2 linked regions of the Homo sapiens genome follow. The protein of the gene in region 2 interacts with the protein of the main gene of each other region in a biochemical or structural test. Each region holds a gene or a part of one and is shown on either strand. Other genes may lie near its edges.

What was found.
Region 1: of the proteins of CYP4A11 (region 2) and CYB5A, one has a biochemical effect on the other in vitro, tested with the Homo sapiens proteins (one study listed by BioGRID).

The regions. Positions count from the first base shown.
Region 1 is NC_000018.10:74,288,907-74,297,300, reverse strand, and holds the start of CYB5A (cytochrome b5), read left to right. Parts: upstream 1-5,337; 5' UTR 5,338-5,425; coding exon 5,426-5,554; intron 5,555-8,394.
Region 2 is NC_000001.11:46,928,688-46,932,975, reverse strand, and holds the end of CYP4A11 (cytochrome P450 4A11), read left to right. Parts: intron 1-138; coding exon 139-215; coding exon of another isoform or gene 216-219; intron 220-2,665; coding exon 2,666-2,861; 3' UTR 2,862-3,788; downstream 3,789-4,288. UniProt on the Homo sapiens protein: A cytochrome P450 monooxygenase involved in the metabolism of fatty acids and their oxygenated derivatives (oxylipins).

The sequences.
Region 1 (8,394 bases), on a different chromosome or scaffold from region 2:
AAGATTAGCAGCCTGGCAAATTTCCTGTCTAGCCTGCTGGAGGACTGGAAGATAGTCACCTAGAGGGCTGGTGTCTGGGACGAGGTTGGGGCCGAGCAAGAAAGGGCATCCATATAAAAGTTCAAATGGGCTGTACTCTGTAGCATCTCGAGGACAGGCTCTAATTCTGAGAAGGGAAAGTGGTAAAAGTACTATCCGGTCCTTTTTAAATTGGAGGCTGAGCTTAGTGAGGTGTGTCTTTAAAAGACCATTAGTCCGTTCTACCTTTCCTGAAGATTGAGGACGATAAGGGGTATGAAGTTTCCACTGAATACCAAGAGCCTGAGAAACTGCTTGGGTGATTTGACTAATAAAGGCCCGTCCGCTATTGGACTGCACAGAAGTGGGAAGTCCAAACCAAGGAATTATGTCTGACAGAAGGGAAGAAATGACCACGGTGGCCTTCTCAGACCCTGTGGGAAAGGCCTCTACCTATCTGGTGAAAGTGTCTTCCCAGACCAAGAGGTATGTTAGTTTCCTGACTCGGGGCATACGAGTAAAGTCAATTTGCCAGTCCTGGGCAGGGGCAAATCTCCGAGCTTGATGTGTAGGGAAGGGAGGGGGCCTCAACAATCCCTGAGGAGTAGAATAGCAGATAGAACACAGAGAAGCGATTTCCTTGAGAATAGATTTCCACGATGGAAAGGAAATGAGAGGTTCTAAGAGGCGGGTTAGCAGCTTATAACATACATGGAAGAGGTTATGAAGTGACGACAGAATAGAATGGGCCTGTGAGGCTGGAAGGAGATATTTTCCTTGGTCTAAGAACCATTTACCTTGAGTGGGGAGGGATTGATAGGTAGAAACTTCAGTGGGAGAGTAAGTAGGAGTGACTGATGAGAAGGAGAAAAACTGGCCGTGAGGGACAGAAGTAGGAATGCTAGCTGCTTCTTTAGCTACCTTATCAGCATAAGCATTGCCCTGAGCGACGCGATCTGATGCCTTTTGATGGCCCTTGCAGTGAATGACTCCAGCTTCCTTTGGAAGTAAAGTGGCCTTGAGAAGAGTTTTTATTAAAGAGGCATTAATGATGGAGGACCCTTGTGTAGTGAGGAAACCTCTTTCAGCCCATATAACAGCATGGTGGTACGGGATATGGAAGGCATATTTAGAGTCAGTATAAATATTGACATGCAGTCCCTTTGCAAGAGTGAGGGCCCAGGTTAAGACAATGAGTTTGGCTTGCTGAGAGGTAGTGGAGGGGGGCAGAGTGGTAGCCTCAGTGATAGATGTGGAAGACACTATAGCATAGCCTGCCTTTGCCAGTGATTGGCGATTGGGCCTGGAAGAACTATCATCAATAAACCAAGCGTGGTCTGGGTGGGGAACAGGAAAGAGGTAATATGGGGAAATGGGGAGAATGAATGGTTTCGTTAGGATGGCAAAACCAGGTATCTAAAGGCAAAAGTACCTAACCATGCCTAGGAAGGAAAGGAGTTGTTTTGTAGAAGGGGTTGGGGTTTGGGAGATTAGCTGGACATGATTAGCAGGGAGAGCACATGTATTTTTATGAAGAATTATGCCGAGATAGGTAACGGATGAGGAAGAAATTTGGGCTTGACTGAAGTAATGGGGGCTGTCCCTGAAGCCTTGCGCCAGTACAGCCCAGGTAAGTTGCTGAGGCTGATGGGTGTCAGGGTCAGTCTAAGTGAAAGCGAAGAGAGGCTGGGATGAAAGGTGCAAAGGAATAGTAAAGAAAGCATGTTTGAGATCCAGAACAGAATGGGTTATGGAGGGGTAAAATGGGGGAATTGTAAGGAGAGTTTATAGGCTTTATAAGGCCATGCTGTAACAAGTGAGTGATAACAGGCTTTAATTCTTTTAAAGCGTGCTGTGGGATGGGATATTGGTGTTGAGCAGGGTAAGGGTGATTAGGTTTTAATGGGATGGTAAGGGGTGCATGATCAGTTGCCAAGGAGGGAGTAGAGATGTCTCATACTTGTGGATTAAGGTGAGGAGATACAAGGAAAATATGTGAAGGAGGCTTTGAACTGGGAAAAAGGGTGACAATGAGGTGTGGCTGTAGCCTAGGAATAGTCAGGGAAGCAGATAATTTAGTTAAAATGCCTCGACCTAATAAGGGAACTGGGCAGGCGGGAATAACTAAAAAGGAGCGCATAAAAGAATACTGTCCCAGTTGGCACCAGAATTGGGGAGTTTTAAGAGGTTTAGAAGCCTGGCCGTCAATACCCACAACTGTTATGGAGGCAAGGGAAAGAGGCCCTTGAAAAGAAGGTAATGTGCAGTGGATAGCCTCCGTATTAAGAAGGGGATGGACTCATCCTCCACTGTAAGAGTTACCTAAAGCATCTATCATGGTCCAGGAGGCTTCCAAGGCGATCGGGCAGTGTCAGTCTTCAGCCACTAAGCCGAGAAGATCTGGGAAGGAGTCAGTCAGTGAGCCTTGCGCCAGAGTTCCAGGAACTCTAGGAATGGCTGCCAGGTGAGTTGGACAGTCCAATTTCCAGTGGGGTCCTGCACAGATGGGACATTGCTTAGGAGGAATCCGGGCTGCAGACATTCCTTGGCCCAGTGGCCACATTTTCAGTACTTGAAGCAAGATCCTGGGGTAGGAGGTCTTGGAAGAACGCCTGGCCACTGCGGTTTAGGCGTTTTGAAATTCTTGTATGCTGGAGATGTGGCTGAAGTTTCTCTCACAGCAGAGGCAAGTAATTGCCACTCTTCTCTATTATTGTACACCTTGAAGGCAAGGTTAAGTCCTGTTGTGGGGTTTGAGGGCTGGAATCCAATTTTTGGAGCTTTTTCTAACGTCAGGAGTGGGTTGGGTAATAAAATGCATACTGAGAATAAGACGGCCTTCTGGCCTCTCTGGGTCTAGGGCGGTAAGGCGTTTAAGGGTTGTTGCCAAACGGGCCATGAACTGGGCTGGGGTTTTATATTTGATGAAAAAGAGCCTAACTGTTTTGGGAGAGGTCGGATAAAGAAAACAGGAGCAACAACCTTGACTATGCCTTTAGCTCCAGCCACCTCTTTAAGAGGAAATTGTTGGGCAGGTGGGGTAGGGCTAGTCAAGGAACAAAACCATAAGCCGGACTAGGTGTGAGGAGGGGAAGTGATAGAAGGATTATAGAGTGGGGGAACAGAGGCTGCGGAAGAATTGGGACCTGGCTCAGCCCGGCGAGCAGGGGAGAGGTCAGATGGCTCCACAGAAAAGGAGGATTCAAAGTACTCAGAGCTTGGGGTGGAGACCGAAGGAACACACAGGAGAGAAAGAAGAAAGATTTGGGATGAGTCGCATTGGGAGCAGAGACTAGGGCGGGACTGATGTGTAGAAGAATGCCTGGATGTCAGGAACCTCAGACCATTTGCCCATTTTACGACAAGAATTATCTAGATCTTGTAGGGTGGAGAAATTGAAAGTGCCATTTTCTGGCTATTTGGAACCACTGTCAAGTTTGTATTGGGGTCAGGTGGTATTGCAGAAGAAAATAAGGTGTTTAGGTTTTAGGTCAGGCGAGAGTTGAAGAGGTTTTAAGTTCTTGAGAACACAGGCTAAGGGAGAAGAAGGAGGAATGGAGGGTGGAAGGTTGCCCATAGTGAAGGAGGCAAGCCCAGAGAAAAGAGAGGGCAGAGACACAGGGGGGGTCGGTACTTGACACCAAGGTGAAGGATCAAGGCAGGTGTCCCTGTGGTGATCAGACACCTCTGAAATGTGGGTGAATAATCAGGCAGGCATCCCTGCAGTGATTAAACACCAAGGGAAGACTGTCTTCTCGAGTCCGTGACCAGTGCCGGAGTTTTGGGTTCACGGATAAAACACATCTCCTCTGTCTCTATCAGAAAAGGAAAGGAACTGAAATTAAGGGAAGGGATAGATTGAAGGGTGGTGCCAAAATTGAAAGGAGAAAGAGGTTGAGAGATAGTGAGAGAGGTTGGAGAAGAGAGTAAAAAGAAGCTGCTTACCCAATTTAAAATTGGTGAGATGTTCCTGGAGCTGGTTGGTCTGAGGACCCGAGGTTGTAGGTGGATCTTTCTCACAGAGCAAAGAGCAGGAGGACAGGTGACTGTCTTATCAGTTAAGGCAGGAACCGGCCATTTTCACTTCTTTTGTGATTCTTCAGTTGCTTCAGCATTTTCACTTCTTTTGTGATTCTTCAGTTGCTTCAGGCCATCTGGATGTATATGTGCAGGCTTGGGCTCAGAGGCCTGACATGCGTGTGTTTTGTGTTTTTCTGGATAGGCATGCATTCCTATGGAGGAGGTAAGCAGGGGGAAGGGAGCTCACATTCATCAGACACCTAGTATGTGTAGGAACCTTCTGCATCCCTGGAAGGATGGATGACCCCACATGTGAAACCTCTCGTGTGGTTCTTTTTGGAATTAACTACCATTGCTGAAAAGGGCCTACATAAAATATCAAATTTTAACATGCTGGAATTTTTCTTTATTTTTTTTCTCCTTCAAACATTTGTAGCTCTTTATATGTGGTATTTCCTCTGTGTCAGAAGGGAAAGAGGGTGCCCTTTGGGGAAGTTCTCTTCCAGACTCCTAGAAGAGAATCTGATTTACCTTAAATGCACAAACAAGGCCTTGCCATGTCACTGGCCAACCGCAGACAAACTACTTCAGTCACAGAAATAATTTGGACACTTTTGCTTTTTAAGGAAAAGATGATTTCCCTGGATTTTTTTCCTGTGAGGACGAGGCATTCCAAAACCCCAGCGGGGTCAGGCACAGTTCGCCAACTTTATGTTTTGGGGGGCAGCGCATTTGCTTCCCGAAGTGAGTTGCGAAACCGTTTTCTAGCGCGCACGGGGCTTTCATCTCTTCCGTGCATGCGAACGGCTTTCCGAGATGCCCCCTTTATGGGCTTGGCCATCGCTACTTTTGTTACAAATTAACGTCTGGGACTCGGACTGCTGCCAATAGGAAACTCCCGCGATTCGCTGCCTAGTTCGCCGCCCTCACAAGACTGGACTCTGCACAGGCCATCCATGCCCGCTGGTGCACCTCGCTCTCTCGCACGCTTAACCCGCGGGGACGCCCCCGACCTCCCACCTCAGCCCTCGCCACAGTTAGTCCCGCCCTTCCGCGCAGACTCCGTGGAGTCCTGTCACGCTCTCCGCGCGCTGCGGCAGCCGGGAGATTGTGAAGGGCACCTCCGGCAGCCAATTAACACCCGCATACTGGGCGGGACCACGCTTGGGCAGGCGGAGGGGGTCGACCGAAGGCGGGGACTTTTGAGTGACAAGGATGATGGCCAACCGTCGGAGGCCCTTCTACTGCGCCCCGCCCCTGAGCCGGCCGCCCAGCCCCCAGTGGGGTTCCCGGCGCGGGGAATGTCCCGGGTGGAGCTGGCTGAGTCGCGCGCTCTGCTCCACCCGACGGGGCTGTGTGTGCTGGGCCTGGCTCGCGGCGAACCGAGATGGCAGAGCAGTCGGACGAGGCCGTGAAGTACTACACCCTAGAGGAGATTCAGAAGCACAACCACAGCAAGAGCACCTGGCTGATCCTGCACCACAAGGTGTACGATTTGACCAAATTTCTGGAAGAGGTGAGTTGGGGATGAGCGGCTTGGGGCGCAGGGAGCGTGGGCCGGGTTTGGGGGTTCACTGGCATGACCTGTCTTTCGCGGCCCGGAGTCCGCATACCTACGCCTAGGCGCGCCCCCCGAGTTCGCTCACCTGCGCGTGTACGCCTGGGCGCGCTTCCGAGTCCGCACACCTGCGCGTGCAAGCCTGGGCGCCCCCCACCGCCCCAAGTCCGCACACCTGCGCGCTCACACCTGGGAGCGCTCCCCGAGTCCGCACACCTGCTAGTGTACACCTGGGCGCTCTCCTCGAGTCCGCACACCTGCGCGTGCACACCTGGGGAGCGCTCCCTGAGTCCGCACACCTGCGCGTGTACACCTGGGAGCGCTCCCCGAATCCGTACACCTGCGCGTGCACACCTGGGAGCGCCCTGCGCGGCGGCATCCTCGCTAGGTGGTGCTGGAGCAGCCTTCCGGGGATAGCGCGCAGCCATGCGGGGGATTTAAATGATCCCTTTCTCCCTTGAGTTTGAATAGAAGGGTGTCCTTCCAGGACCGGCGGCATTCCCGCAGTGGCCGGCTGGAGACCACCCACCCCGAGAGCTGCGGATCCCGCCGGAGGGGACCCCAAGTGCGGAGGTCGGGTGTGGTCCGGGCCTGCGCTTCCCGCGGCAGCCACTGGCCGACCTTGCGGTCCACACCCACTCGCGTTCGCGTTCACCTGGAAGAGGCTCGGTGTTAATTAACCTTTTCCAGTCACGCCTTGGCAGCCAGGTGCCGTGCTTGACTCCTGAGACCGCGGTGTGTGGCTGGAGCAAGAACACAGAGGCCAGGCAGAGCAGCGGACGTTCTGCGTGGGACTCGCCCCTAACAGCTTTGGAAGGTGTAATAGGAAACGTTGGTTAACTTGAAGACATTCCTTTGATAAGATTCTTTGCATTCGGTTATAATTTTTGCCGCACACGCTAAGGGGCGCTTTTGGTGATTGTCTTAGATCCTCTGGAAGTGTTTTACTACTTTTGGGGGAGTCTCAATCATAAATCTTAACGCATGCTCACGCCCCCTCCCAATAATGAGAAGGTTTAGTGATGGGAATTTTTTACATAGTCGGGGAGCAGGGGACAAAAATAGATGCCTGGTCTGAGCTGGATCACAGTTTATATCAGAGGACTTTGTTTTTGCAGAAAATGTTAAAATCAAAAGGCCTGTTTTAAAAAATGAGGCTGGGCCAAGCACGGTGGCTCACACATGTAATCCCAGCACTTTGGGAGGCTGAGGCGGGTGGATCACTTGAGTCTAGGAGTTCGAGACCAGCTTGACCAACATGGCGAAACCCCATCTCTAACCAAAATACCAAAATTAGCCAGGCCTGGCGGGGCACGCCTGTAGTCCCAGCTACTCGGGAGGCTGAGACAGGAGAATCCCTTAAACCTGGGAGGCAGAGGTTGCAGTGAGCCGAAATCGCACCACTTTGCTCCAGCCTGGGGGACAGAGTGAGACTCTGTCTCTAAATAAATAAATAAAATTAAATAATAAGGCTGGAGTTGATGTTTATTGGTAAGGTATTTCACTCTGGAGCAGTGCCCGAAGATAAAGTCATGTTACCATTTAGTAAGGAGGGGTTTATGTTGGGAAATCAGAGCTGACCTGTCCTCTCCCTCCTGCCCGGCTGCAGATCTTGTCATATAACATCAATTCTCATTAACTCTAAATGTGGAATTTTAAGATACAGTGTGTGCTTTGTCTATTTGTGCTTATAGAAGAAGTAGCATAAGAGAATATTAGGATATTTTATATTATGAAGCATTTTCTTCTTTTCTTGTCTTCTCCTAAAGCGAGTTTTTTCAACCCTGGCACTGTTGACATTTTGGGCCAGCCGATCTTTGTTGTGGCGTCTGTCCTGGGCATTGTAGGATATTGAGCCACCTCCCTGAGTTCTACCCACTAGATGACCGGTACCACCACCTCCCCTATTTTTTTTTTTTTTTTTTTTTGAGACAGAGTTTTGCTCTTGTGGCCCAGGCTGGAGTGCAATGGTGTGATCTCGACTCACTGCAACCTCTGCCTCCTGGGTTCAACCAATTCTCCTGCCTCAGCCTCCCAAGTAGCTGGGATTACAGGCGCACACCATCACGCCCAGCTAATTTTTGTATTTTTAATAGAGACAGGGTTTCAACATGTTGGCCAAGTTGGTCTCGAACTGCTGATCTCAGGTGATCCACCCACCTTAGCCTCCCAAAGTGCTGGGATTACAGGCGTGAGCCACTGCTCCCAGCCCTACCTCCCCTATTTATAGCAACCCAAAATGTCTCCAGATATTGCCAGAGGTCCCCTAGGGCACATAATCTCTCCAACTTGAGAATTACTAAGGTTACTGTGCATGACTTTAGGGGTAGATTTTCAGAGACGATAATAGGGAAGTGAAGATTATTGTTAAAATGTACTCAAAACTATTTACTTTCACATTTCATTCCTGTGAGTCAGGAAAGGAGGGATTGTGCAAAAAATTTTCCGAGAAAAACTGAGAGATGAGAGCAAGCTCTTGAGTGGGTAAATTAGCTGAAAACAAATTTCTTTATTTTTTCTTACTCAAAGTTTTTGTGGAGAATGCATCTCAAATAAAATGAACAAGAGGGTGGCTGACCCCTGGAACGGCTAGGAGGATGGCGTGAGTGAGGAGGCTGGGGTCTGGGAGAAACACAAGGAGTTAGTTTGGTTTTGGTCCTGTTGACTTTAAGAGGTTGGAGGGATCTTCAGGCATTGCGAGAACTGCATGCGTTTCTGCCTCCACTGTCTGCCAACATGTGGTTCTGGGAACAAGCAAGGCCACTTAGCCTTTCACTGGATTGTGTCTGACCTCTGGG
Region 2 (4,288 bases):
GTCCTTGAGAGGAGGAAATGAGGTGATCCCTCAAGACCAATACCTTCTCCTGCTTCCACCTCTGGGAGTCCTGTCCCCCATGGGTGGCAAGTAGGTGCTGGATCCTTAACTATCCTGGCTCTGGTGCTCTCTCTGCAGGTGTTTGACCCTTTCCGTTTTGCACCGGGTTCTGCTCAACACAGCCACGCTTTCCTGCCCTTCTCAGGAGGATCAAGGTGAGACGTCCTGTGTGGTAATTCGAATAGAGGAATGAGGGAAGTCTCTGGTCAACCCTCTGATCTTTGTGAGCCTGATGTTCATATGTGGCATCTTCAGGTGTGCTCTTAAATGTTGGTATTTGTGGGAAAGTCAGGCACCTGGTGTGGGCGTCTCTGTGTACAAAAGGAAGGTGGCATTCAGAGCACCCCATGGAGACTTTGCTCCCTCTGCTTCTTCAAATGGGCAGCCTGAATTCACTGTCAGTGCATGTTCCAAACTTCAGTATATTCATGTATTTTCCTCACTTTAAGGATATGAATTCTCAAAATTAGATATTCTCCAGTAAATTCAACTTCAGCTGTTTGCTTTTCTCAGTTGTCAGGAATAGTAAACTGTAGATTTCTCTCCCCCCACACATCCTCAATGCAGCACACTACCTTCCCTATTTAATTCACTAGTCTGTCGTAGAGATGAATCATTGAAGTCTTTGCATCTGTTTATAATACAGATGACCTGCAAGTCCTACCTTTCAAGTCATATAAGGGAGAGGTTAAGGTAGCCCTTTGAAGAAAGTTTTACAACAGTGTGTGTCATATCATACATTCTTCTGTCTTGCCCAATGAAATTTTTACTGCATTATATAGTGTTCACATATTTACATCTATTTTCCCGTTTGACAAATTCTGTACATGCCTTGAGATCTTTATACCATAGTCCTGTAATCCACTTAGCACAATATTGGCCAAAAACATAAAAATGTGAACAGTACACTGTCTTGGAGAGAAAAGCCCAATAATTATCATATAACGCACAACATTTGAAGCCTCCTGGTATGTGAAATATAAAACACACTTGAAATTGCTTTTGAGCTGGAGAGGAAAACTCCAGAATGGTTGCGGTGGAGATCATTGTGGCATCAGGAATCGTCCTGTGACATACACACAGGCAAAAACGATATAAATTCTTAGTAGAAACAAAGTTTGTTCAAAGAAATAATTATGTGACTTTTTGAAACGGTGAGTCCACTTACACAGAACAGGCTTTAAGAAAAAGCTTCCTCCTGAAACTCCTTCTCCAGCACTGGTCTGTCTATCCCAGCATGAGAAAGTCCTCCTAAACATTGCCTGCAAATCATGTCGCTGCCACTAGAGAACTGGAGAGCATTCCTAAGGTCCATTTCTAGCTCAGAATTAATATTTACTCTCAGTGTATTTCATTATATTTTATTCATTTTAAAACTTAACATCATTCAAATATAGAAGTATTTCTTAAGCTACCTCTCTGGGTCAAGTCCTATGCAGCATGATGAGAAAACAGAGATAAAAAGTACAAAAATGTGTTGTACAGAAATATATCCTGTGCTCCAGACACACATCGTTCCATCAACCATCCTTTCACTCATTCACTCACTGAGTGGCGTGTTGAGTGTCCCTGTCCCTGGTGCTGTCCTTGGCACTGGACTGTGAGTGTTCATGGATAAATCGTGAATGCTACCTGGGGGCCTGGGAGGGAGAGGCCCAGCTGGCAGGGAGTGAGAGGCAGCTGGGATCTGACTTTAGCCTTGAGGATGTGGCAGGCAGAGGTGGAGGGAGGACATTCTGAGCCATCTCCACATGAACAGGGCCAGGACGTGGGCTGGACAGGTAAAATGTGGGTGAGGCAAGAGCCCATGGAGGGCTTATCTGCCAGCTGAGGCATTGGGATGCTGTCCCACCTGTGATGAAGAGCGTGGGAGGGTCTGAGCTGGGCTGTGGCTTCAGTGTGCTGGGAGGGGAAGCAGAAAACCATAAAGTCCAGGCAAGAATACTGAGGAAGGGCAAGGAAGGATGTTTCTGGAGTAGAATTAGAAGGCTACAGGGGCTGGTGGATGGAGGAGTGAGGTTAGACAGGAGCCCGGACCCTGGGGTGGGAGGCAGGTGGGGCAACACTGAGGATCACCCACCCAGTTCTCCTCCAGGAAGCCTCCCACTGCCCTTCTGACTCCCTTAATACACCCATCGGGGCCCCTATGAGGATTCAGGTCCCTGTGTGTCCCACTACATGGGAAGCACCTGAGAGTGTGGCCCACCCTCACCCTACAGGACCTGAACTGACCTCCACACTGGAGAACAAGAAATGTTTGTGGAGGAGTGAACAAACCATTGATTAACTCTTTATCTATTCATGTGATTAGACTCTGTGCCTTAGAGCCCTGGCCTTGTCTTGATAGAGGGTTTCAGGCTGCTGAGAGCAGAGGTAGAGGGTAGGAGTTAGGAGCTAGCCCAGGAAGACGGCTCTGTCCAAGGATTGGGATAGTGTGAAGCCAGGACGGGGTAGAAGTGTCCATGGGCTGTATGTGTGCAGGGGCTGGACACATGAGGTTGGGCACTGAATGTCCAGCTCAGGGCTGGGGTCAGGGGCCAAAACCTGCTCAGATCAGAATGGGGCCTGAGGACACTTCTCAATTCATTATCTCCACCTGGCCCAGGAACTGCATCGGGAAACAATTTGCCATGAACGAGCTGAAGGTGGCCACGGCCCTGACCCTGCTCCGCTTTGAGCTGCTGCCTGATCCCACCAGGATCCCCATCCCCATTGCACGACTTGTGTTGAAATCCAAAAATGGAATCCACCTGCGTCTCAGGAGGCTCCCTAACCCTTGTGAAGACAAGGACCAGCTTTGAGGGCCTCCACCTGCCGTCCTGTCTTCCTGACCCCCGCTTCTGTCCCCTTCCTGTCTGCCCATATCCTGTTTTCTGTCTGCCCACCTTCCCTTCTTCCCACCTGCCTGCTGTCCCCCAGTCTGCCTGCCCTTCTCTCTCTCACCTTTCTCCAGGCTCCCTACCTGCTTGTCTACCTGTCTCCTACCCACCTGTATCTCTTGTTGGGAGAAAAGCTGAGTGTTGGGAGAAGCTGAGGCCGAGCTTGCATGTCTGACATAATGTAAAAGAGTCTTGGATCATGTCCAGGATCCAGGGTCTAAAACCCCTTGTGGCCTTTGGAACACCAAGCTCTGTGCTGAAGGGTGGAAGGCTACCCTGACGCACCATAATCTAAGCCCGGGGCATAAAACCCCTCGTGGCTTGGATAGAATCCAGGGCTCGTGGCTCTGGAATGTGTCTGAACTTGCTGCCTCCTCGCTCCTTGCTCTCCCAGGATCAATTGTATCTTGAGTTAAAAGAACCTGCTCTCCATTATCTCAAGTAGCAGAGCAGATGCTAAACCGTCACAGCTGTAAATCATGTGCTTAATGCAACATGCCCTTTCGACCCCCACATTCTCACCACCTGTTTCTTTGTTTGATCACCAATAAATAATCTGCACTTCCAGAGCTCGGGGCCTTCACAGCCTCCATCCTTAGCTTTGGCGCCCTGGACCCACTTTCTCTCTCAAACTGTCTTTTCTCACTGCTTTGACTCTGCCGGACTTTGTCACCCCCACGACCTGGTGTTGGGTCTGAACACCCCAACATCCCTGAATCTCCACCCACCTCCCAAACTCCTGCCTGCCCTCCAGACTGTCTGCCCATACACCTGTCTCCTTCTTCCTGCCTGCTTGTCTGTTCCTATATTAGTTTCCTATTACTGCTGTAATAAACTATCACAATCTCAGTGATTTTAAATAACGACTTTTATTCTCTTACAGTTATGGAGGTCAAAGTCAGATATATGGGTTTCACTGAATTAAAACAAGTTCTGGAGAGGGCCAGACCCCCACCCCCAGAAGGTTTCAGGGAGAGCCCTGCCCCTTGGCTTTTCAGCTCCAGAGCTGCCTTTTTTGCATTCCTTGGTACGGTCCCCTCCTTCCTCTTTAAAGCCAATGGCATCTTCAAATCTCTCTCTCTGTGACTGTCTTCACATCTCTTTCCCTCTTATAAGGACCCTTGTGGTTAGTTACATCAAGCTTATTAAGATAATCAAGGATAATGTCACCACCTCAAGATCCGTTACTTACTCAAAAGTCCATTGTGACATATGCAGTCCCACAATCACAGGTTTCATGAATTAGGATGTGGACAACATGGAGACCCATTGTTCATCCTAGCACAGCCCCTACCGGATTGTCATCCAATGTGTCCATCTAAATCTCTCCTGTATGCTACCTACCTACA